7 linked regions of the Homo sapiens genome follow. The protein of the gene in region 2 purifies or fractionates together with the protein of the main gene of each other region. This does not show direct contact. Each region holds a gene or a part of one and is shown on either strand. Other genes may lie near its edges. The genes, in order: RHOF, SLC22A11, TTC27, RAB15, PCK2, HEATR6 and CRYBG3.

The links.
Region 1: the proteins of SLC22A11 (region 2) and RHOF purify together in Homo sapiens (affinity purification with mass spectrometry; one large-scale study listed by BioGRID and IntAct). This does not show direct contact.
Region 3: the proteins of SLC22A11 (region 2) and TTC27 purify together in Homo sapiens (affinity purification with mass spectrometry; one large-scale study listed by BioGRID and IntAct). This does not show direct contact.
Region 4: the proteins of SLC22A11 (region 2) and RAB15 purify together in Homo sapiens (affinity purification with mass spectrometry; one large-scale study listed by BioGRID and IntAct). This does not show direct contact.
Region 5: the proteins of SLC22A11 (region 2) and PCK2 purify together in Homo sapiens (affinity purification with mass spectrometry; one large-scale study listed by BioGRID and IntAct). This does not show direct contact.
Region 6: the proteins of SLC22A11 (region 2) and HEATR6 purify together in Homo sapiens (affinity purification with mass spectrometry; one large-scale study listed by BioGRID and IntAct). This does not show direct contact.
Region 7: the proteins of SLC22A11 (region 2) and CRYBG3 purify together in Homo sapiens (affinity purification with mass spectrometry; one large-scale study listed by BioGRID and IntAct). This does not show direct contact.

The regions. Positions count from the first base shown.
Region 1 is NC_000012.12:121,787,189-121,790,688, reverse strand, and holds part of RHOF (rho-related GTP-binding protein RhoF), read left to right. Parts: exon of another isoform or gene 1-534; intron 535-3,500. UniProt on the Homo sapiens protein: Plasma membrane-associated small GTPase which cycles between an active GTP-bound and an inactive GDP-bound state. Causes the formation of thin, actin-rich surface projections called filopodia.
Region 2 is NC_000011.10:64,562,441-64,565,940, forward strand, and holds part of SLC22A11 (solute carrier family 22 member 11), read left to right. Parts: intron 1-1,867; coding exon 1,868-1,988; intron 1,989-2,781; coding exon 2,782-2,897; intron 2,898-3,500. UniProt on the Homo sapiens protein: Antiporter that mediates the transport of conjugated steroids and other specific organic anions at the basal membrane of syncytiotrophoblast and at the apical membrane of proximal tubule epithelial cells, in exchange for anionic compounds.
Region 3 is NC_000002.12:32,626,733-32,630,849, reverse strand, and holds the start of TTC27 (tetratricopeptide repeat protein 27), read right to left. Parts: upstream 2,801-4,117; 5' UTR 2,558-2,800; coding exon 2,470-2,557; intron 328-2,469; coding exon 150-327; intron 1-149.
Region 4 is NC_000014.9:64,962,337-64,965,836, reverse strand, and holds part of RAB15 (ras-related protein Rab-15), read left to right. Parts: intron 1-3,500. UniProt on the Homo sapiens protein: The small GTPases Rab are key regulators of intracellular membrane trafficking, from the formation of transport vesicles to their fusion with membranes.
Region 5 is NC_000014.9:24,100,811-24,104,310, forward strand, and holds the end of PCK2 (phosphoenolpyruvate carboxykinase [GTP], mitochondrial isoform 1 precursor), read left to right. Parts: intron 1-1,942; coding exon 1,943-2,080; intron 2,081-2,349; coding exon 2,350-2,445; intron 2,446-2,699; coding exon 2,700-3,154; 3' UTR 3,155-3,315; downstream 3,316-3,500. UniProt on the Homo sapiens protein: Mitochondrial phosphoenolpyruvate carboxykinase that catalyzes the conversion of oxaloacetate (OAA) to phosphoenolpyruvate (PEP), the rate-limiting step in the metabolic pathway that produces glucose from lactate and other precursors derived from the citric acid cycle.
Region 6 is NC_000017.11:60,061,922-60,065,421, forward strand, and holds part of HEATR6 (HEAT repeat-containing protein 6), read right to left. Parts: intron 1-3,500. UniProt on the Homo sapiens protein: Amplification-dependent oncogene.
Region 7 is NC_000003.12:97,870,511-97,874,010, forward strand, and holds part of CRYBG3 (very large A-kinase anchor protein), read left to right. Parts: intron 1-1,331; coding exon 1,332-3,500.

The sequences.
Region 1 (3,500 bases), on a different chromosome or scaffold from region 2:
CTGACAGACCCCAAGGAGGGGCACCCAGGGAGAAGAGATCTGGCTGCTCCCTGTAGGGTATCCCCCCGTGACCAGGGAAGGCTTGCTCATAGGAGGAAATCCCCTGGTCAGTGAGTGCCACCAGGGAGAGCCCAGGTCCCAGTGCTTGTCATGGAGCAAGGCCTGGAAGGTGATGGAATGAATGGGTAGTGGATCCGAATGCCGGAGATGATTCATCTCGGCCTGCAGGTGGACGGCTCTCAGGAGAACAGGACAGAAAGCCATGGCCAGGCGGCCACGTAGAGAGAGGCAAAGGCCAAGAGGGTGAGGGAATGGCCAAGCCAGAAATGAGTCTAGTAAACGTAGTTGTAGAAAGTTCTAGAACCCAATGGGCCACACACAGTGGCGGAAGGGGCATCTTCCCGACTGGTGGCCACCAGAGCTGTGAGACAGGGGTGGCTCTCAGAGGCTGAATTTCTCCACACCCAGGACCAAACGCTGGTCCTGGGCAGGGGCCGGACGCTGCCCACAGGGGCCCTCGTGGAAGGCCCGTGTGGCTGTCTCCCTCCTGAGGAAGTAGTTACAGACACCACAGCGGAGGGAGGGCAGATCGGGTGACGGGGCTCGCAGGGCTCAGAAGGGAAGGGGCGGGGGCCATGGCACTCACTGCTCTGTCGGCCTCACCGGGGCCCTGACATCCTCTGAGGCAGGAAGCTGCGGTGAAGTCTGAAGTTTCCTGGGCCGGGGGAGGCGGGGTGAGGTGGGCTGTGAAGACACAGACGGGAGAGTGAGCTCATCAGGGCCAAGGTGTGGGGTCCAGGGTTAGAGGGGCACAGGATGGGATAGGGGTTGCCCGGGGAGCGGTGGTCCCCTTTTCAGCCTGAGATGGGAACAGAAAGAAAATTGTTAGGCAATGGAGTAGGATTTGCTAAGACAAGGAACCAGGGACAGATGTGTGTTGTGAGCCCCAGAAGCACCGGAGGCCTGGGCTGAGACAAGGCTGGGGTCACCCAGAAGGTGGTCTCAACTCCCAGCTGGGGCTGCCCAGCCCCTGTCTCCCTGGGAAAGCACAGGTGGGCGGCCCCCAGCAGAGTGAGTAAAAGTGGGTTCCTCTTCTGGCAGCTTCACTTCTCATGCTGCCAGTACCCCTCCCTGACCAACGCCGCAGCTGGAGCTGGGGTCCACCCGCCCTGTGTGTCCTCCTGCAGATTTGAGGTCTTTTTTCCTCAACTCTGCTCTGGGCCTTAGAGACCCCTGTCCCTGGAAGCAGGACTTCCTTGGCAAAGCCTCATCCCACCAAGAAAATAGCCCTGTGTGCGGCATGAGCCTCCCTTCCGCCCAGCCCTGCCGCACCGCCTGAGTGCACGTCAGGACGATGGGCGGCTCTAGGGGGAGCCCAGGCCTAGAGACTTCCTCACCAGAAGCACGTGCATCCTTTGCATGTAATTCCTGGGTTTTTTTTTGAGGTGGGGAATGGTTAGAGACAGGGTCTCGCTCTGTCACCCAGGCTGGAGTGCCATAGCATGATCATAACTCATTGCAGCCACAGCCTCTTGGGCTCAAGTGATCCTCCCATGTCAGCCTCCCAAAGTGCTGGGATTACAGGTGTGAGCCACCACGCCTGGTCTACCTGGGCTGTTTTAACCTCTAAGCCCATCTGCAGAGGCTGGATGGGCCCCCTCTGTGACTACGGGCAGGTGACATGGACCCTTTCAGCCCTGGTATCATTTTAGGTAGAATGTGGAGGGTAATGGTATCACCTGGTGGCTGGGAGGCCCCTGAAGCTTCTGGGTCCAAAGATTCTGGGGTTCTGACCACCCACCATGCCAGGCTATTAACTTCTCCTGGAAGTTTCAACAGTAACCACAATAGCAGTCCTCCTGCCTCCCGGCACTGCCCCCCACTCCACCCCTGCCCCTGCACTGCTCCCGCTCTAAGCATTGCCTCCCTTCTCCTGGGCTTTCACCTTCCAGATTAGGGGGAGGGTTATCACTGTTATCACCCCCTCTCCCAGATAAGGAAATTGACACCCAGAGAGGGAAATGTGGGCGTCAATTCGAGATGTGGAGGCTGCCCTGAACAGTCCTGCCCAGAATGTGCATGAGTGAATGGAACCTGACCCTCCTGACTCATATGAGAGAAGGTATTTATTAATAGTACGCTCCCCCATCCCCAAGTGGGCATGGGGTTGGTGCACACGGAAGTAGTCCTCTGCAGGCCTGGTCCCCCCACCACCCCCACGCCCCAAAGGCCCACACTGAATTCTAGGGAAAGCTGGGTTGGGCAGAGTCAAGCCAGGAAGGCAACCTGGAGGAGGTGCTGGAGTCGGAGCTGGCTGCCTCTCCCTTTCCAGAGGCCCTCTTTCTTGAGAGGGCTGACATTTTTCCTCACCTGGTCAGGGCTGGGACAAGTAGGGTGAGGATTCCTTCCTGTTTTCTGGGGTAGGCTAAGAAAAAAAAATACTCCAGTAAGGTCCTCTGTTATTTACAAAGCTTCCCCTTAGCTGTGTGGCCTGGGGCAAGTCACTCCAGCTCTCTGTGCTTCCGTTTCTCAGCCTGTAAAATGGGGCCAACAATAGTGTCTACCTTGTAGGGCTTTTGGGGGAAAGATGAGTTAATCCAGGTGAAGGGCTTTGAGCTAGACCTGGCATGTAACACAGTGGTACACACCTGCGGCCCCAGCTCCTCAGGAGGCTGAGGCAGGAGGATGGCTTGAGCCCAGGAGGTTGAGGCTGGAGTGAGCTATGATCACACCACTGCACTCCAGCCTGAGCAACAGAGCAAACCCCGCCCCCCCCCCCTTTTTTTTTTTTTTTTTTTGAGGCAGAGTCTCACTCTGTTGCCCAGGCTGGAGTGTAGTGGTTCAATCTCTGCTCCACCTCCCCAGCTCAAGTGATTCCCCTGCCTCAGCCTCCCAAGTAGCTGGGATTACAGGCATATGCCACCACATCCGGCTAATTTTTGTATTTTTAGTAGAGACAGCGTTTCACCATGTTGCCCAGGCTGGTCTTGAACTCTTGACCTCAAGCGATCCGCCCGCCTCAGCCTCCCAAAGTGCTGGGATTACAAGCATGCGCCACAGCGCCCGGTCTAGACCATGACTTTTATATGAGAGAAAGAGAGTCGATATTAACCATCTTTATTATGACTGTCATCAAGGCTCGCTCACTTTTCACATCTCCATTTCACAGATGAGAAAACTGAGGCCCAGAGGTTAATTCCCGGTTGGGAAGGCTGGGGACAGCTTCCTGGAAGAACTGGTGCTTTTAGAATGGCCTGGCAGGCAGCTGACCTTGGGGACTGGTTGGCCTCTGGCTCACAGGGTGCTTGTCTCTGACCTTGACAAAGGCCCCCTCCACCACTTGCGTTCTTAACAGGAAGAACTGTCCCCACCCAGCGCACCTCCCAGGGTGGCTGCTTGAATGAACACAGGTCAGGAAGTGGAATGCCCTTGCCAAGGCTGCAGGGCACCTAAAGCCAGAGAGATGACGATTAACCCTCTTCAACCACTCCTTCCTTTGA
Region 2 (3,500 bases):
TATGATGTGGGACCTTTTCCTTAGGAGACCCAGGGTGGGAGGGGGACTCTTCACTTTCACCTCTCTGGCTGGCAGTAGGTCCAGAGACCTGGAGTGCCACAGAAGGGCCATGGCATGAGCGGCACCCTCGCTAGGGAGGGACATTGGTGATTGGCAGTCCTGGGCTAAGTGTTGCAGCCCGAGGTCCGTGGCTCCCATCCAGCCCAGACAGGCCAAGATGGGCTGGCACAGCATTGGCTCAAATGGTGATTTAAAAAATACATTTGTAACTAGTTGCTAACATTTAAAAATCAGAAGATTTTCAAAAACAAACAAAAACAGTATTTTTTACCTTCTTTGGAAAAACTGGAAGATCCAGGGGCACTGGGCTGAACTTCGGCCACAGTGGAAGCGGCCGCTCTCCCGGTCCCCAAGGCCCCACTGCCGCTGTCCCCTGGGCTGAGGCTGTGAGCATCGTCCTTCCTCAATACTTGCACCAGCCCCCACCCACCAGCTTCACTCCTTCACATACAGTGCGGACCAACATTGGATATGAAAATAGATTGTTGTCACTACAATTTTAGGGGCCGCAAAAATCCCTAAGGTCTGGAAATCCCTCCTTGGGTTGGCACTGAGGAAGGAGACACAGACAGGTGCAGAGGGTCTTAGGTGCTGGGGACACACAAGTGAACAAAACAGGCAAAAACCAGTGGCCCCGTGGAGCTTACGTTTCATACACAGATCAATAAGTGAAGAGGAAGGCCATCCCATAATTACAATAATTAGGCCATCCCCGCCACGCTGATCAGGTGTGTACCAGGTGCAGTTTATAACACTAGGTGCGTATTAACACACCTTCTAATAAGTAAGATGATGCGATTACCACCATTTTCAAATGAAGGACCGAGACCTAGAAAGGTTAGGTCACTCACCCAAGGTCACACACAGCCGGTGAATGCCAGAGGCAGGATTTGAACCTAGGCAGGCTAACTCTTCACCACTACGTCAGACTGCCTCCAGAAGTCCTTCTTAGCTTCCCTGCAAACAGGGCTGAGAGCCGGTGGGTTGGGCAGATCCTGTGCCTTCCACCAGGAAAGTGTTTCTCCTGGCCCACCTGCCCCTGAGGTTGGGGAGAAATAGACTGGTTTTATAAAATCACCTGGTTCTGCCTGGGGATATTTTAAATGTGCTAAAAAAAAAAAAAAAAAAAAAAAAAAAAGGCCGGGCACAGTGGCTCAAGCCTGTAATCCCAGCACTTTGGAGGCTGAGGCAGGTGGATCACAAGGTCAGAAGATCAAGACCATCCTGGCTAACATGGTGAAACCCCATCTCTACTAAAAATACAAAAAAATTAGCCATGGTGGTGCACACCTGTAGACCCTGCTACTCAGGAGGCTGAGGCAGGAGAATCACTTGAACCTGGGAGGTGGAGGTTGCAGTGAGCCAAGATCGCACCACTACACTCCAGCCTGGGTGACAGAGTGAGACTCCATCTCAAAAAAAAAACAAAAAAACCCAGCACCAAGTGACCTTTCTATCCTAGAAATAGCCCCAGAATCACTGGTGAAGCAGCCAACTCTAGGGACACCCATGCCCAGGCCACCTGTGCCCTGGCTGTGTGCAGGGCTCAGGTGGGCAGGCCCCGGGCAGCCAGGCGAGCCAGATGGAGGTGGCTCGCTTGGGAAGGTGGGCGGCCAGGCATTGGGACTCAGCTTTATTCTGAAACCGCTGGGGACTGCCAGGCTCCTGGCTGGGCAGCAGCGGCACAGAAGCATGTGCTTCCTCATCACTCATCTCAGCTGGAGGGTCCGTGCCCACTGCCCCTTTCCACCCCGCCCCGGGGGAGAGCCCAGCGTGCACTCCCAGCTACACACCTGCCTCCTTACAGGTGGCTGCCAGAATCCGCCCGGTGGCTGATTATTAAGGGCAAACCAGACCAAGCACTTCAGGAGCTCAGAAAGGTGGCCAGGATAAATGGCCACAAGGAGGCCAAGAACCTGACCATAGAGGTGAGATGCTGCTGTCTGCGAGACTTGACCTGGGACAGGACGTGCACTGAGGGATCATCCGTGTGGCCTCCAACAGCACCACCCACTCCAGCACCACCTCCACCAGCACCACCACCAGCATCTCCACAGACACCACCAACACCTCCATCACCACCTCCACACAGACACCACCACCACCACCACCAATCCCGATACCATCACCAACAGCACCACCACTGTCCACACCCACCATCACCTTCACTGCCATCACTCCATCACCACCAGCACCACCAATACCATCACTAACCCCACAGCCACCATCTCTGCAAAACATCTCCACCACCTTCACCACCATCGTCACCATCGGTAACAGCACCATCATTATCAACAGCACCCACACCGTCACCTCCATCACCCACCACCTCCACCTGCATGTAGCACGCACCCACCTCATGGGGGTTCTCGATGTGTCTGGGGAAACAGAATGTGTTTATTTGAAGGTAGCTGCTTTCAGGAAACAGGCGCTGCCAGAGATTAGAGTGAAGATGGGGTCGGAGGATAAGGGAAGGCTTCCAGAAGGAGGCAAGCTAGAGCTGAGAGGACCAGGGCTGAGTCAAACCTGCAGAAGAGCCAGGGCCTGGAGAGAACCTTTTCTGCCCCATCCCCTCCCCTTCCCCTAGGGATCCAGCTTCCAGAGGCCGAGGCCCAGGACAGGCTCCCCGTCACTCTGGCCACTTGGACACTGTTCTCTGGCACAGGGGGTGGGGCAGGGCCATTGCCCTACCATTCACGGTGCCCCCATTCTCCCCGGAAGGTGCTGATGTCCAGCGTGAAGGAGGAGGTGGCCTCTGCAAAGGAGCCGCGGTCGGTGCTGGACCTGTTCTGCGTGCCCGTGCTCCGCTGGAGGAGCTGCGCCATGCTGGTGGTGAAGTACGCCGTCCTGGTGTCCCTCCCCAAGGCAGGGCTGGGACAGGCAGGAGGCAGAGCTGGGACAGGCAGGAGGCAGAGCGTCCAGGGGAAACAGCACCCGCAGGCCTCAAGGGGGTGCATTTCTGTCTGGGACAGGACGCAGACAGCCCCAGCAGGCAGGAGTCCTGGCAGGCAGCAGAGAGGGACTATGCACAGGTGGGATCTGGAGGCTGCCATCTGCAGGAAGCCAGAGGAAAAGGCAGCTCTAGGCTGGGGGTCCCAGGGTCCCAGGGAGGTCCCAAGACAGAGGCAGAGCCAGGGTCCCTAGAGCCAGGGGACCAGCCACGGCCGAGGAGTACCACTGTGTGTCATCGTTAGAGACTTACCACTTTCCTAGAGACCATGGCCATGCTCCTAGAGGGTGAACCTGCATTCGCTGACCCCTCCATGCAACCCCACTTCACTGATGGGGAAAGAGGATCCCAGAGGGGTAAGGAACAAGCCCAAAATAATAGAGCCTGCATTGGAACCGGGCTGAGCTAACACTTGGCTTACCGGCACTGTCACTGCCAGGGCCCGCGCGACCAGACCCTGGCCCTCCCCGGGACCCAAGGTCATCTGGGC
Region 3 (4,117 bases), on a different chromosome or scaffold from region 2:
TTTTTACATAGATTACTTGGTACACCATGAGTCTTGAGTAAAATATAAGGCAAGGTTTCTCAACTGCTAAAATCAGGGCCTTACCCTGTCAAGGTGCTATTAAATGTATTTGCTCTGTTCCTCTATGAAAATTTCAAATAAAATTCTACCTTTCCGTTGTGTCCAAATCTGTTGAGTAATCCAGGAATGTTACTACCTGCTTCTCCAGGTAGCTATCAATCTTTTCTTCAGCGGTTGTTGTTGAATTAAAAATATTTTGAGTCATTGAATTTAAGAATATGGCTTCATAGTTCCCTTCCAGTAGCAATTGTAGGAAAGATCCACTCTCTGTAATATAAAAAATTAGTGCGGTAATCCAAAAAAAATTATTTTTCATACCGTAAAGGATAACACTATTAGGTAAATCTACCATTTTAGTGTGCAAAAACAATCTATAGACTTAGAATGATTACTGTATGTCAGTCACAAGGCACTCAGTAAATTTCCATCATTCTACAAACATTCTCTCTCCTAGAATTAGCAGCTCACTCATACTGACTATGAGCCCCAAAGTGGAAGTCAGCCCCAGAAATAATATTCCTCATTAATAGGTATTTAGTCTTTTGCTGGGAAATTCACAAAGATTCCTACTGACAATACAAAAGTTTCCTTAGTCAAGGTTCTAAAACTTTTCACAATCTGGTTCTTTCTACCTCCATTATTTTCTCTTCTTGAAAAGTCACTCCAAGAGCGCTGGTTTACTCATTGTTTCCCTAATGTCCCATGCGTATTCCTGCCTCCACACTTTGCACTTGTGATATCGCCTGTTGAACTCTTCTCCACTTGTTAGTCTTACCCTTTAATCCAAAATCAGCTCAAGTCTAACTTCTTCTAGGAAAGTTTTCCAGGCCACCAAAGTTCAAACTTCCTGTCACTGGAAGCACCTACTGTGTCACACAAGTGCCCACACACACACACATACACACAGAGTACTTACACACTACACTGTTCATTATTACTCTTTTGGGTCCAGCCTAAATCCCACAACCAGATGTGCCAGTGCATGTGCCTTTTAACTCTTTATCTCTCTGGTAAATATTCATTGCTCACAAGAATTAATCTTTGCCTCCTAGGCTGGGCGCGGTGGCTCATGCCTGTAATCCCAGCACTTTGGGAGGCCGAGGTGGGTGGATCACGACGTCAGGAGATCGAGACCATCCTGGCTAACACGGTGAAACCCCGTCTCTACTAAAAATACAAAAAAAAAAATTAGCTGGTCGTGGTGGCAGGCGCCTTTAGTCCCAGCTACTCGGGAGGCTGAGGCAGGAGAATGGCGTGAACCCGGGAGGTGGAGCTTGCAGTGAGCCGAGATCGCGCCACTGCACTCCAGCCTAGGCGACAGAGCGAGACTCTGTCTCAAAAAAATAAAAAAAATAAATCATTGCCGCCTAGGCCGTGCATGGTGGCTCATGGCTGTAATCCCAGCACTTTGGGAGGCCGAGGCGGGTGGATCACCTGAGGTCAGGAGTTCCAGACCAGCCTGACCAACATGATGAAAGCCGTCTCTACTAAAAACACAAAATTAGCCGGGCATGGTGGTGCATGCCTGTAGTCCCAGCTACTTTGGAGGCTGAAGCAGGAGAATCGCTTGAACCGGGGAAGCGGAGGTTGCAGTGAGCCGAGATGGCACCAGTGCACTCCAGCCAGAGCAACAAGAGGGAGACTCCATCCCCCCAAAAAAACAACTTTGCTGCCTCATTTTAGCTCCTCTGCTTACCAACAGTGTGACCTTAAATAAATTACTTAACCAGACCCGGGCGCGGTGGCTCAGGCCTGTAATCCCAGCACTTTGGGAGGCTGAGGCAGGCGAATCATCTGAGGTCAGGAGTTCCAGACCAGCTAGGCCAACATGGTGAAACCTCGACTCTACTAAAAATACAAAATTAGCCGGGCGTGGTGGCGCATGCCTGTAATCCCAGCTACCCTGGAGGCTGAGGCAGGAGAATCACTTGAACCCGGGAGGCGGAGGTTGCAGCGAGCCGAGATCGCGCCATTGCACTCCAGCCTGGGCAAAAAGCAAAACTCCGTCTCAATAAATAAATAAATAAATAAATAAATAAATAAATAAATAGATAAAATAAAATTACTTAACCCAACTGTATTTACAGATCTTCACCGCAAAATGGGATTAAAAATTGAATCTACCTTAAGTATCTACTATAAGCATTAAATGACTGAGTACATGTTAAGGGCTTAGAAAAATAACTGACATTGCCATTGTCATTATTACTGAACCTGGGCGGTAAGAAGTTTTGCGCAAAGAAAGTGAGGACCACGCCCACCATGTCAAAGACTAAACGACCCAAAGCCTCAAGGAATCAGCTAGACTGTGTTAGGGAAAAATGAAGGGAGGGATGAGAATCAGTCGCTGCCATCCCTTTTCCTCACAGTTCCCACGATAGCCTAAGGCCCGGTAGGTGCGCCTCTCACCTGAACCGACGACCCCCTCCTGTTTCCATTGCTGCCGCTCAGCCTCAGTGGGGAATCCCCTCAGAATTGCCAGCTCCGGGGTCCACATCACCCCAGACACCGCTGCAGCCAAAACAGGCTCCCACGAGGGCCACACGGGAGTCAACAAAAGAAAGTGAAAACAGGAGAGTCCAAAGGCGCTGAAATCTAGTGGCGACAGTTACCGTAAATACACCTGCGGCCCTAGAATTCCATGTGCGGATACTACCTCAAGGAGGCGGCCATAACAGCAGCGCGGGGCACCCTGGGAAAAACACGCACGCTCTCTGGTCTGGCTTCCGCCTAGGAGAAGAACCCGAGCTTGAGTAAGGAGCCTGTTGGGTGGTTATGCCCCACCCCGGGGCGGGCAATAGGGGGAGTTGAGGGCGCGGTCGCGCTCAGCCCCGCCCCCAGTGGGACCGCTTCCAAGAACTGTGAACGTGGAAGTGAGTGTGCCTCCCACCGAGGGCTAGGGTTCAAATGCAACTCAAAACGGACGTCTTGGCCAAAGCAGTTTGATTAGAAGGGCTAGAGTTGTGATTCTTAAAGCATTTTGGGTTAGAACGCTCTCGACAACCCGATGAAAACCACAGTCCTTCGCGCAGAGTGCAGGTGGGCCCTTGCTCTCAGCCTAAGGGTACCCTCTCAGGGAATCACAGACCCTCTGACGTGGAGTCGGTGAAGCCCAGGTTGGAACCCCGTCAGCATAGCATGGGTCTTTCGGCGAATGAGCGTGTAAGGAAAGGATCTGGTTTTGACACTGCTCTACATGAATCATGGCCGGGTGGGAAATCTGCCCCTGCCGCTGGTGCAGGGAAGTTTTTGGAACACTGTCGGAACGCTGTAGAAGAGTGATCCCAGGGGTGATCACAAAGAAATTGCAAGGAGACAAACCAGCCTCCGCTGGTACCTTATTTGCACTTCTTTGAATCTTCCTAGCAGCACTCCAAAGAAACAGTTAGAGGGCGGGCGCGGTAGCTCACGCCTGTAATCTCAGCACTTTGGGAGGATGAAGCGGATGGATCACCTGAGGTCAGGAGTTCGAGACCAGCCTGGCCAATATGGTGAAACCCGTCTCTACTAAAAATACAAAAATTAGCCGGACGTAGTGGGGCACCCCTGTAAACCCAGCTACTCGGGACGGTGAGGCGGGGGAATTGCTTGAACCCGGGAGGCGGAGGTTTCAGTGAGCTGAGATGGTGCCACTGCACTCCAGCCTGGGCAATAGGAAAGAGGGAGGGAGGGAGGGAAGAAGGAAGGAAGGGAGGGAGGGAGGGAAGGAGGGAAGGAAAACAGGACTATGGCTTTGTCCCATTGGCTTGACACCTGTACTGAGATATGTCATGTAAGAGCCAGGAGAAAACTGCAGGGTAACTCTGACCACAAGAGCAAAAGCTCTCTGAAAAGAGGCTGACCCGGTACCCAGCTCCAAGGAAGAAGCTAAATAAATGTTAATTCACTTTCTTACTCAGTAAAGAGCCACTCCAGAATGTGAAGGGAGAGGAACTCAGCTCAGCTCATTTCAGCCATTGCCATCAGATACCAAAGGAAGCCGGACCTGACTGTGATTGGAGAAGAGCGGATGCCCTAAAATGTCCTCCCACTGAGAAGTAATTAAAAACTGTTTTTC
Region 4 (3,500 bases), on a different chromosome or scaffold from region 2:
CCCACAGCTGGGAGCACCGGTTCCTCCCGCCTACCTGCACTCCCTGGTTTCTGTTCCTTCCTCCTCCTCCTTCCTTCTCCCCGCTCCCCAGACAGGCTGGTGATGAGCTTTATAACATGAAAGCTGATATTTGGCCATTATCCTTCTACCCTGATTGCCAGCTCTTCTCAGAGTGCCTTCTTCTGTAATCCAATCTTTGCACCAGTTTCCCTGTGAAACTGCCAGTTTTCTGTATAGGCCTCTGCCCTCTCCTTGGCTCTTCTCTCTGGTCAGTGAGCTTTGTCAAGGGGAACACAGGGCTTCCTGGACACGTAATTCCTCCCACTGAGGAGGAAGGGGCTAATCACCAGCCCTGTTTTATTTTATTTTATTTTTTTGAGATGAAGTCTAGCTCTGTCGCCCAGGCTGGAGTGCAAATGGCTCGATCTCGGCTCACTGCAACTTCTGTCTCCCGGGTTCAAGCGATTCTTCTGCCTCAGCCTCCTGAGTAGCTGGGATTACAAGCATGCACCACCACACCTGGCTAATTTTTTGTGTTTTTAGTAGAGATGGGGTTTCACCATGTTGGCCAGGCTGGTCTCGAACTTCTGACCTCAGCTGATCCACCCACCTCGGCCTCCCAAAGTGCTGGGATTACAGGAGTGAGCCACCATGGCTGGCCGACCCCATCTCTTAAAAAAACAAAAAGAAAAGAAAAGAAAACAAAACAAAAACACTTTTTAAATTAACTGATTATGGTGGCATGTGCCTGTAGTCCTAACTACTCAGGAGGCTGAAGTGGAAGGATTGCTTGAGCCCAAGAGTTGGAGGCCACAGTGAGCTGTGATCACACCACTGTACTCCAGCCTGGGTGACAGAGTGAGACCCTGTCTCAGGAAAAAAAAAAAATTACTGAGAACTCTGTGACCATGGCACCATGAACTATAGAAAGGGCTAACAGTTGGCTTTGAAATGTGGGTTATGGCTGGGTGCGGTGGCTCACGCCTGTAATCCCAGCACTTTGGGAGGCCAAGGTGGGCAGATCACAAGGTCAGGAGTTTGAGACCAGCCCGGCCAACATAGTGAAACCTCATCTCTACTAAAAATACAAAAAATTAGCCGGGTGTTGTGGCAGGTGCCTGTAATCCTAGCTACTCGGGAGGCTGAGGCAGGAGAATTGCTTGAACCCAGGAGGTGGAGGTTGCCACAAGCTGAGATCGCACCACTGCACTCCAGCCTGGGCGACAGAGCAAGACTCCATCTCAAAAACAAAAATAAAAACAAAAAAAAGTGGTTTGTTTTCTTTTCTTTCTTTTTTCTTTTTTTCTTTTTTTTTTTTGAAACAGAGTCTTGCTCTGTCACCAGGCTGGATTGCAGTGGAGATCTCAGCACACTGCCACCTCTGCCTCCCAGGTTCAAGTGATTTCCCTGCCTCAGCCTCCAGAGTAGCTGGGACTACAGGCACGCACCACCACGCTGGGCTAAGTTTTTGTATTTTAGTACAGAAGGGGTTTCACCATGTTGGCCAGGATGGTCTCCATCTCCTGACCTCGTGATCCGCCCACCTCGGCCTCCCAAAGTGCTGGGATTACGGGCATGAGCCACCACGCCCGGCCTAAAAGTGGGTTATTTTCTAATTGCTCTTCCCTGATTAAAATTTTCTCTTTGCCCATCTTTTCTCTAGATATGTACTGACTTCATTCATCCATTTATTCGTCTCACTTGCTCATTCATTTTTGCTTTCATTTACTCTACTTTGTTGAATAATATTTAGTGATCTACCTGCTGCCAGGCAGTGAGAGTCTGAAGTGAACAGGATGCTGCTTTGCCCTCTGGGAGCTTACAGTGTAGCTGGGAACCAGACATCCAAACAAGCAGAATATTATGCAAAAGAAATGTCAGGATGCTTTGGAATCACAGAGGAGTGAGAAATCCCTCCCGGGGAGGCTGGTGAAGGCTTTGAAGAGGAAGTGACATTTGAGTGGAGTCTTGAAGACTAGGCAGGATTCTCCAGGGGCCCTGGGTGTGGGGGAAGCACACATCCTCTTCCCTGTAGGAGGTGCTGTGGAGAACACCTCCAGTGGGGCTGCTACTCTTCAGCCTTGCTGGGGCCAGCTGGAGTGGCCACACCATGGTCACACCAGCTGAAGTTCAAGAAGCCCCTTGCCAGGAGATTGCTTTGCTGGCTCTGGGTGAGGGCAGGTGCATCTGGAAGCCCCCTTCTTTCTAAGATGTTTGCTCCTGAGTTTCTATGTCCTAGTCTTTTCTTCCCTGAACCTTTTGCTACCAGTCAGCACAGCCCTGCCTGAGAAGGAGGCTGGAGGAGTGAGTGGTCAGTAGCCTGGTGGGTCTTGGCTGCCTCTGTGGTGCCCGCTGGCCTAAGTAGCAGGCTTAGGGAGGCGAGACCCAGTTCCAGGGGCTGCCAATGGGGAGCGAGATGGGGTGGCTGGAGCACACTGCACATGTCACCAAGGCTCTAGGGAGGTCTGTGCACAAGGCAGTGGGAAAAGCAAGGGGAAGACCCAGCCTGGTCAACATGGTGAAACCCCGTCTCTACTAAAAATACAAAAATTAGCTGGGTGTGGTAGAGCACGCCTGTAGTCCCAGCTAACTTGGGAGCCTGAGGCAGGAGAATCACTTTAACACAGGAGGTGGAGGTTGCAGTGAGCCGAGATCGTACCACTGTACTCCAGCCTGGGTGACAGAGTGAGACCCTGTCTCAAAAAAAAAAAAAAAAAAAAAAAAAAAGTGGGGAAGGGGAACACTGATCCTGATTATCTACTCCATATACTTACTATGTACCTACTACCTACACAGGGACGGTGGGCTTTACGCATGCCATTTATTCAGTGTATAGAGATCTCAGCATCACATAGGAGCAGGGAGTTCTGAAGTTGGCCTTGCTGGCATTTGAGAAGTTTCTTGGTGTATTCTTCAGGTTCACGCCTCCAGACAAGTGTAAGTGCTATTGAATGCTGACTATGTTCCAGGAACTAAACCAGATGCTAGAAGACACGCAGTAAACAGTACAGATGCAGGTGCACATGTGAGGGTCCACACAAGACCTGAGAGAAGGGAGGGGTCTTGCTGCAGTTCCCCTTTTGTAACAAAGGAGAGAGTACTGTTGACCCTCTTCCTAGGAACTGTGAGTTTGACTGAAATGTGTCCTGCCACAGGATCTTTGCTGCTTCCTCTACCTGATTCTTTGGATCTCCCTGCTGGCACCTTCTTGTCATTTAGGTCTCAGCTCAAATGTTACCTCCTTTAAAATGTCTTCTCTGGCCAGCCAGTCTAAGGTTGCTTGTGCTTGGGGTCTCCTCACTCTCTACTTTATCCCGCAGTTGCTTCTTATCACATATGGCTCTCTGAAATTAGGTATTCATTACTTACATCTGTCTTCCCCACTAGAATTAAGCTCTGATGACAAGGATCTTTCTGTGCTGTTCATAGCTTATCTTCTAGTACCTGGCTTAGTTCCTGGCACATTGTAAGCATTCAATAACAGTTTGAATGAATGAATT
Region 5 (3,500 bases), on a different chromosome or scaffold from region 2:
TCCTACAAACAAAATCAGGTCAGTGCTTGAGTCTTTCCCAGAAGCTAGTTTCTGAATCCTGTCATTACCCTGGGCGCCTGGGAGTCCCACCTCTCCCTCAGCCCTGCACTCTGGACCTTCAGTATTCTTTCCATGGCCTTCTGCAGTCAGGCAGTCCAGACACCAAGAGGCAGGGGCAAAGAAGAGCATGGGAGGGGAGGCTGGCCTTGTAGTCACTGAAGCCTATATTCAGGTTTGCCAGGCTGGCCTAGCAGTCACCCTCCTTGCTTCATCTAATCACCCTTTATTTTTACTAACACCATCATTAAGCCCCCCTCAGCCTTCCCACCCAACTGAGAAATCCAAGAAACTTTCATCTTTCCCCACAGGCTAGTTCCCCAACCCTTTCATCATCTCCAGATTTGGGGGCATAACTAGGGCATCTTGTCCCCAGCTTCAATTCCCAGAATAATACCCTGTGTTAGGATTCTGCACTGGGTGCTGAAGAAGGATGGCTCTTATCTGCAATGGCGGGCAGAAGCTGGCGGATGGGAGAGGGTGGGGATTTTGGCCCCGTGGCTTCCCCACTCCCCAGGTCTGACCAGCAACCTCCAGCAGAGAAGGCACCATGTCCACTCAGGGGCCACACAGTGGTGCTTCATACATGTGCCACTGACTTAGTCCCAACCCCCCTCCAGGACACCTGAAGGTGCCAAGTGTGACCTGGGCTCCTGAGGTTATCCCTACCCATGTGATATCCCTATCTCTATTTTTCCAGCCCTATCACTTCATCAGGGTCTAAGCAGGGCAGGGAAATCACCAACATGTTGTTAGCTTTAAAATCAATTCCTTGCAGGGCACAGTGACTCACATCTGTAATCCCAGCACTTTGGGAGGCCGAGGCAGTTGGATCACCTGAGGTCAGGAGTTCGAGACCAGCCTGGCAACATGGCAAAACCCCGTCTCCAATAAAATACAAAAATTAGCCAGGCATGGTGGCTCATGCCTGTAATCCCAGCTACTCAGGAGGCAGGAAAATTGCTTGATCCCAGGAGGCAGAGGTTGCAGTGAGACAAGATCATGCCACTGCACTCCAGCCTGGTGACAGAGTGAGACTCCGTCTCATAACTAAATTAATTAAGTAAATAAAATCAGGCCAGGCGCAGTGGCTCATGCCTGTAATCCTACTACTTTGGGAGGCCAAGGTGGGCAGATCAGTTAAGGTCAGGAGTTTGAAACCAGCCTGGCCAACATGGTGAAACCCCATCTCTATTAAAAATACAAAAAAATCAGCCAGGCATGGTGGTGGGTGCCTGTAATCCCAGCTACTGGGGAGGCTGAGGTAGGAGAATTGTTTGAACCTGGGAGGCGGAGGTTGCAGTAAGCCAAGATTGCACCACTGCACTACAGCCTGGGCAACAGAGCAAGACTCTGCCTCAAAAATAAAAAGATAAAATAAATTCCTATTTGCATTTGGATAACTTAGGAGAACCTGTCTTCCCCGGTTTGCTGACGGAAAGTCAATTGTCTGAAGTACTAAGCTGACATTCTCAGTTTTTGCTTTAGGTTTGGGTATTCATTTAAATAATAATCTCACAAATAATGAAATAGTTTCTGGGGGAAAAATTATTATAACCTTATGCCCATATCTAACCCCATTCCCTTGAGCCCTGGTCAGTGCCAAGTGCCAGTAGCTTGGCACAAACATTAGTGCCCTGCCAAACCCCAATTCCTCTCCCACTCTTTTCTCACATAGCTCAGCTGGCCGCACCTTCATGGCTAAACAACCTGAGCTCTTGGAGATGCCCTGGCTCCCCTCTCTCTGCTCCTTATCACACAAGGTTCTAGGCAGCTGATGAGGCAAAAAAAAAAAAAGAACCCTGCAAGAATGTGTGCCCATGTATGTGTGTGTTGGGGGTCGACATGACCTTGGAAATAATAGTGTTTGTATTTCCTCTGCCAGGTGACAAGGAGCCCTGTGCACATCCCAACTCTCGATTTTGTGCCCCGGCTCGCCAGTGCCCCATCATGGACCCAGCCTGGGAGGCCCCAGAGGGTGTCCCCATTGACGCCATCATCTTTGGTGGCCGCAGACCCAAAGGTAAACAACATATGAGCTCCATGTTCTTGGCAAAAGGGCTATCTCTGTATTAGGGCCTACCTCCCTCCCTCTGATCCAGAGCCTCAGCCTGGATCTCACCTTTCTCCAGAGTTCTCCCCTGGTGAATGCAAACTTGGGAGGAGGCAAAGGGTCTGAAAATGGGATAGCCGAGGTCTTAGGAGAGAGAGTACCAGTCAAGCTCACCAGAAGGGCTGGAGTTAGGGTCCAAAGAAAAGGGCTGCCTGTGACTCTGTTCATTGGTGATCTAGGGGTACCCCTGGTATACGAGGCCTTCAACTGGCGTCATGGGGTGTTTGTGGGCAGCGCCATGCGCTCTGAGTCCACTGCTGCAGCAGAACACAAAGGTGAGCACCCTCACCATTCCTCCCTCTCCTGTGTGTGCACACAGCACGTCCTCTCTCCCTTCCTGAGCCAGACCTTCCTTTTGTCCACCCCTGGAGTCTGATATGGCCCCACCTCTTCCCACTTCTATCTTTTCCCCATCCCTGAAGATATTCAGAACCATAAGCCTTTCACAGCTTCCTCCAACTGGATGCAGGGTGCCCTTCCCTACCCCAGTGAGAAGGAAGATTCCTTACCCATCTTGCTTCCCCCCCAGGGAAGATCATCATGCACGACCCATTTGCCATGCGGCCCTTTTTTGGCTACAACTTCGGGCACTACCTGGAACACTGGCTGAGCATGGAAGGGCGCAAGGGGGCCCAGCTGCCCCGTATCTTCCATGTCAACTGGTTCCGGCGTGACGAGGCAGGGCACTTCCTGTGGCCAGGCTTTGGGGAGAATGCTCGGGTGCTAGACTGGATCTGCCGGCGGTTAGAGGGGGAGGACAGTGCCCGAGAGACACCCATTGGGCTGGTGCCAAAGGAAGGAGCCTTGGATCTCAGCGGCCTCAGAGCTATAGACACCACTCAGCTGTTCTCCCTCCCCAAGGACTTCTGGGAACAGGAGGTTCGTGACATTCGGAGCTACCTGACAGAGCAGGTCAACCAGGATCTGCCCAAAGAGGTGTTGGCTGAGCTTGAGGCCCTGGAGAGACGTGTGCACAAAATGTGACCTGAGGCCCTAGTCTAGCAAGAGGACATAGCACCCTCATCTGGGAATAGGGAAGGCACCTTGCAGAAAATATGAGCAATTTGATATTAACTAACATCTTCAATGTGCCATAGACCTTCCCACAAAGACTGTCCAATAATAAGAGATGCTTATCTATTTTACACAAGATTTGTGCTGTTTTCATTTCCCACCTATCTTCACAGGCTTCCCTCTAACACCTGTCTCACAATCATCTTCTTCCAGCCCCTAGAAGAAGCACAGCCTGGCACAATCAAAGATCTGTTTTACAGGTAGCTCTAGCACTGGGTCACAGACATAGGAATTGCTGGGAGAAGGCACTATCCAC
Region 6 (3,500 bases), on a different chromosome or scaffold from region 2:
GAATGGAAAGAAATGAACTAATGTTCCAAAAGTCAAAAATTTTAGCACAATTTTGGCATCTTAAGGGGAAAATCATGACTATCACAGATGAAAACAAATGTCATTGAAATTGGTTATTTTTTTCCACTAAGTTACAAAATCTATATAGAAATTTGATACTATATCAAATTGTACTTCTCACAGTTCTGAGTTAATTTCCTTTAAACTCTGTTTAACATATCTTTGTTGTTATAATTGTTACTTAAGATACTGAATCTGGTACAAGTTTTGCTTCTTTTGCTCTTATATCAATATTTAATATCTGGTTTACCAGTCCTAATCAGCACTTTCAGCAGAAATTACTAACGTGCAAGTAAATCATAACAGGTGTAGCTCTTCAGAGAGCTCATTTTGTTAAGTTTTCATTGTCTGAATATTTAAAATGATGAATGAAAGGCTTTTCAGTCTTACAGAAGTCAGTGTGCTTGGTTTTACTAGTGTATAGTTTCACCTCCTTGGACATGAAGACTTGTCTAAAGCTAATAAAACAGAAAAGTACTTTTCCTTTTTTGCTACTTAAGAACGTAGCACAAATGTTTGCTGAGGTAGCCTAGTCAATCCTAATTTTTTTCCTCTTTATGTGTGTTTGGTCTCAGAATATTTCTGGAAGGGTGACAAAGAAGTCCCTGCTGGGAGTAGGTACATTGAAGTTTCCATGCAGGGCACATGACTGTTCACATGTTATTTTATTGGATCTCACTTCCAAAGTCAGTTGTCTTTTACGTAACAGCATTTCAACATTGTGTCAGGGACTCTGGGTTGGGAGGTATCTAAGTGATATGGTTTAGCTGTGTCCCCACCCAAATCTCAACTTGAATTATATCTCCCAGCATTCTCACGTGTTGTGGGAGGGACTTGTGAGAGGTAACTGAATCATGGGGGCTGGTCTTCCCCCTGCTATTCTCGTGATAGTCTCACGAGATCTGATGGGTTTATCAGGGGTTTCTGCTTTTGCTTCTTCCTCATTTTCTCTTGCTGCCACCATGTAAAGAAGTGCCTTTTGCCTCCTGCCATGATTCTGAAGCCTCCCCAGCCATGTGGAGCTGTAAGTCCAATTAAACCTCTTTTTCTTCCCAGTCTCGGGTATGTCTTTATCAGAAGCGTCAATACAGATACACTAATTAAAGACTGCCTGTTCTTTGCTAATACACTAAGCAAAGATTGCCTGTTCTTGGCTGGCCATATGAGAGAAAATCTACCATTCCATAACAGTTAACAATTCCAACCTTTTCATTCTCTTTTCTAGTTATACCACTATTATCTAGATTTCGATTTGTTTTCACTTTTTATAGTTATCTGAAACAGCAATAAATCATCATCATGAAATTTGTAAATCAGGATAATTCTCAAGGTACCAAGACAAAGGTTTGCCCTGTAGTTTGTTTCTTAAGACAAGTCTTGATGATATTCTCCATAATATGCGTTTATAACACCTAAGGAAATCATATCCAAGAAATTCTTAAATTAGTCTTGTTATTTTTATTGATAATTTGTTCTGTCCCTTTTGGAAGTGTATAAGATGTGCTCTATGAAGCACATTTCCAACATGGAAATGTGATCATTTCCCAAGTACCACAGCACTGCCAAATCCGAATGGACATTTCTAAGTTTTCTTCTCCCCAATTAACCATTCTAGCATATTATGTTTCAATTTCCTAAAAGTAGCCTCTGTTTATTGTTGGCATTCTGACTGGAAGAGTCTAATCACCTTTCCTTCTGTCCATTTGTCTTTAGAAAATTTCTTAGTACACCAGTTAAAATTGTGCTTCCAGCTGAGTATGCCATGGGTCATATCAGACCTGCCATAAACTCAAAACTAATCACTAAGCACTTCAATGACAAGATAAACTACAGTTGTCTTATTTAATCCTGGCTAAGAGGAACTCCAGCCATCTAACTCTATATGCACAAGGAGCACCTGAGATGACCACTTGGCCTGGAGTCATGGCAGCTCTTTTAACCTGGTCAATCCAGAATGCTGTTCCATTCTAATTACATGATCTGTTATTTTTAATTTTAATGCACATAACTTTCTAGAAGTCTTTATTTTAAAAGCCTGTCCCACTGGGCCGGGTGCGGTGGCTCAAGTCTATAATCCCAGCACTTTGGGAGGCCAAGGCAGGCACATCACCTGGGGTCAGGAATTCCAGACCAGCCTGACCAACATGGAGAAATCCCATCTTTACCAAAAATACAAAATTAGCCAGGCATGGTGGTGCATGCCTGTAGTCCCAGCTCCTCGGGAGGCTGAGACAGAATTGCTTGAACCCGGGAGGCAGAGGTTGCAGTAAGCTGAGATCTCACCATTGCACTCCAGCCTGGGCAACAAGAGCAAAACTCTGTCTCAAACAAACAAACAAACAAACAAACAAAAGCCTGTCCCATGACATCACCTACCACAACACTTTTTTCTAGCATATGTCTTGGTGCACAGTTAATCACACTATGGACAGACTGCAAAGGTATGCTCCAAGCTCTGTTGTAAACAATAATTACCACACTTATTTAAACCCTTCCAAGCTAACACTTGATTAAAAGAATCTCTTAAGTACGATCATTTCACTTGCCATTACACTGAACTAATTTAATTTCTTTCATCTTTTAAAATCCACTTTAAGTAGGATGACTTTTTTTTTTTTTTCTCTAGGATTTTCTTGTGGCTTTTTGTACTGGATCTACAACATCTCCAGAAGGAAGTTCTGTATCTTTTTTCCTCAGCACATCTCTTGCATTCACCAAAGTTAAACAGCAAGAACAAGTCTAAAAGGTACCTAAATCAAGGAGATGGATAAGACCACTTTGCAATAGGTGAAATTTCTCATGGCACTTTAAGTGAAATGTAAACATTTAAAAATATATGAAGATATAAACATCATGAAAATTATTCCAATTCATTTTCATCAGCTATGACCTCATAACCTTTTTGTATTCCTGTTCTAAACCCCCGTGTCCCACATCCCCTTGGCTGGGCAGCTGTGATAAAGGTGATAAAGCTGGGCTGCTTCTTGCTCCACAGCACCATCTCGTTGGCCACTGCTGGCAGCTCCCCTAGCTGGAGGGTCTTCAAATATATATTTTCAATATTTTTAGTAGCTTTTATTTCAATTACTCTAATGGCTTCATTACTGATTTATTTGCCACCACTCATTTTTCCATTTTTCTCCTAGGTTCTCATTCACTATTGATTTAGTTAATTTGTAAAATTTCTGCCAGTTTAATTTCCTAGGATAAGGAGTATTTGAAATACCCCACAAGTCATTTTTTTGCGTGTATATAAAATTGAGGCTAATTTATTTTTCTTTACCTTGTAAAAGCTTCTGATGGGTCATCCAGAAATTTTCTTATATAGTAAGTTACTCAAGGAGATGACTCATATGGAATTCCAACGTATTGTGGGTTACCACCCCTGACCCCTTAAGGAATAATCTTAAAAACAGAAAAGGAACAATATGCTGTTGGCC
Region 7 (3,500 bases), on a different chromosome or scaffold from region 2:
ACCACATTTTCTTTATCCAATCTACCATTGATGGACATCTAGGTTGATTTCATGTTTTTGCTATTGTGGATAGTGCTGTGATGAACATATGAGTGCATGCTATTTTTTATAGTCAGGAAATTGAAAGGTAATTAGAGTTCAAAATGTAAAACATTTTGATTATCACATATAAGAATTAAGACATTCTTTTGAAATAGATTACTTAGCAGTAAGTATCATTCCTTTACTTATTCATTAATTCATGAGAAGGTATTAAGCATATACAACTTGCCAAATCTTGTGTGGGGCACTTAAAAACAGAAAGATGATTAGGACACAGTACCTTCCCTCAAATAGCCACCAGGCTAGTGGGGAAAATAAATAAGTGCATAGATCTTTATGATTTAATGTGACAAATGTTGTGCTCTGTGCACCCAGAGATCAAAGACTAACTGTCCATCTTAGTAGTAGAGGGATAGGTTTGCAGTGGAAATTATTTGTGTGCTGAGTCTTAGAGGGCATTAGAGTTTCCTTCTGATGCTGGCATTAAAGGGCAGAGAATGATGTGTGTAATTGGCTATAAGATAGTATGGCGTGATGTGAGAACTCGTAGTGGTAGATTCTCCAAAGGAAATTGGGTGCTGAGAGCATCAGGATCTTTATACTGTGGTTAGATTTCTATACTTACTCTAGACATCTTTTTTGATTTTTGCATTTGCCCAAGCAGTTTAATACTATACTAAATGAATATTTGAAGAACTGAACACAGAGAATTTTAATGCAGTTTTGTCATTTATTGAGTTAACAAATACATACTGAGTGTTTACTGTGGGCTAGACATTTTGCCATCTGTTTTCATTTAAAACGTTTCCAAGTTACGTGCTAAACATTGCTGTTCAAATTCACATGTAAGAGTAAAGGAATAGAAGGTCATTATGATGCTTTAATGTGGTGGAGAAGTCAGTGATGTATCCCTAAACTCGTAGTAATATGAGGCCCAAAGTCAAGCTGGTTACTTAGAGTCAGACACTCCTTTGAGATTAGAACTAGGACCCAAGGCTTGGACTCATATTCTGTTAACCACAGTCAGAGGTATGTATGTAATCAGGTAAGAAGGAGTAATTCTAAGGAGGTCAAACATTCTTCATGCTGCATTGACATTCAGGTGCTACTTGTTAAATTTTTATTATTTTTAATAAAGGTAAATTTAAAGCGTTCTAGGATTTACTCCCCAAATTGGTACATATTAAGGGAAGTGGTGTTTAAAAGATGTACTTTTACCACAGTTGCTGGGATTAGTATTAAGTATTATTAATTATATTTCCTGATACTCTCATGCTTTCTTTTTACAGACAAATCGATGGTAAACCAGAGAAGCCTTCAGTAACATATGCAACATATCGAGGCCCAAGACACATTGGGAAATATTTAAAGCAACAGACAGGCTTGGCAACTGTGAATACCTTGGACAGAGAAAATGAAAGTTCTGACTCTAGTACAAACAGACACATTGACCCTGGAAGTGAGATTGAGGCTGGGGTACTGCCACTGTTGTTATCAGCTAGTACAGACTCATCTATGAAAGGAAATCTACTTGAAGGCCCATTAGAAGACTCTGATTGTAGCAAAACAAGTTTCAACAAGGAAAATTCTTTGACAAATAACCCAGAACTGCAGAATATTGCCTCTTCCAATAATCTTTTAAATAAAAATGCTTGGGGGAGTATTGAGAGAAATAGGTCATCCCCTTCTTCTGTGACTAACTCCAGCTACGATGGAGAATCTGACTCACAGCACCATTTAAGTTGTGAACCGGTTTCTCAGACTAACAGAAATTTGGTATGTTCAGCATTGTTAACAGGAAGTAACCATCGCAAAGTCCCTTGCAGCCCAGATTTTCAGAGAGTAACTACAACAGAAAATACGATAAAAGAAAACAGCACTGTGATGAGTAATAGGACATTGGTGCAAAGAGAGGAGCTTGTTGAGCCTCAGGGCCCTGCTATTTCTGATTTCTCTTGTAGTAAATCTGATGGGAGTGACACTACTGAGCAGGAAAGTACAAATTTGCCAAGTCCAAATAAATCAATTAGGCATGAACATCTGCAGTTGCCAGAGAGTGAGTGTTCTGACAAGCAAACCATAGATAGCTCATCAAAGCAAGCTGCCACTCACACCAATATCATTGCTCTTCAGAGACATGCTGTGACAGACACAGAATTTGTAAATGAAGGAAAGAGATTGTCTGCCCAAGACTCACAGAAAAATGTGGCTGTTAGAGAAATCAGGCGAGAAACAGAAAGTGCCTCAGCTGGTGAATCCATAGCTTCAAGTCATGTAAAAGCTCCAGAAGATAAAATTGAGTCATTACCCAAAGATACTGACCAATACTTTGAAACCAAAGCCAAAAAGCTTGATTTTAGGTCACATGATAAAATTCCTCATATTAGAATGAATAAAAAAGACCTGGCCTCTTTAAATTACATCAGTGAATCAGCAGTTGTAGCAAGCTTAGGAAATGAAAATGCACCTGAGTTGAAATTTGAACTTAATAGAAGTCACATTTCAGAAACTCCTCTTGACTCTGAGAGTCCTCAACAAGCTGAAGTATCACCTGATGCTAAAACATCTCTTAGCCTTGACTGTAAAAAACTAAATTTCAGTATTTCACCTCCTACCTTTGTTTCTGGAGTTGGGATGCTGAGCAAGTTGGATATTCCTGATTTAATGAATGAGGGTTCTCCTGTGCCCATTGAAACTGGGAATGTCAACATTGTTGGTATTTCCTATCAGCCTAGGAAGTGTAAAGAAGAAAATGTGAAAAACCATGTTGAGGCTGCAGGCAGGAAGAGTCCTCCTCCTTCCTTTTGCCTTGAATATACATCTGCAATTTTTGAATTCAAAGAAGTTCTTTCTAATAGTGAAAAATGCCAGGTTCTTCCAGGTTCTGAAGCCAGTGGCCCTCACTTAACTGGGTTGGAGCTATTGAGCTTTGACTCTGGAAACCTCTCTAAGGATTGCAGTTCCATTTTATCTCAAGACCCTAATAGAGTAGAGTTAGTGTCTTCAAACACTAAAGCAAATATGAGCATAATAGAGAAGTCTGATTCTCTTTCCTTGGAAGCCAAAACTGCTAACATTGTATCAAAAGCTGAAATTGATGGTCAGAACAATGTTCTTGTGGAGTCACATTCTGGAAGAGGAAAAACTATATCCTTGTCCAAGGTATCTCTTTCAAAAGTGGAGCCCAGAAACATTTCTCAGGATAAAATGTCTTCTTTTCCATTGAAAATTACCCATGTTCCAGAAAAGCCTATTTTGTCAGAATTAACCTTTCTAGAAGTTGAACAGGGCAAACGTTTTCAATCAATTAATCATAATGAGATAGGAGAGAAATGTTCAGATGCTGGCCTTAAAGAGAATTGCCAAGCTGAGCTTTCTCCTGCTGCCTCCAAATATGAAGATAAGCCAGAACCAGAGGTAGATGCCTTAGGCTCTCCTCCTGCTCTTCTTAAAAGTAA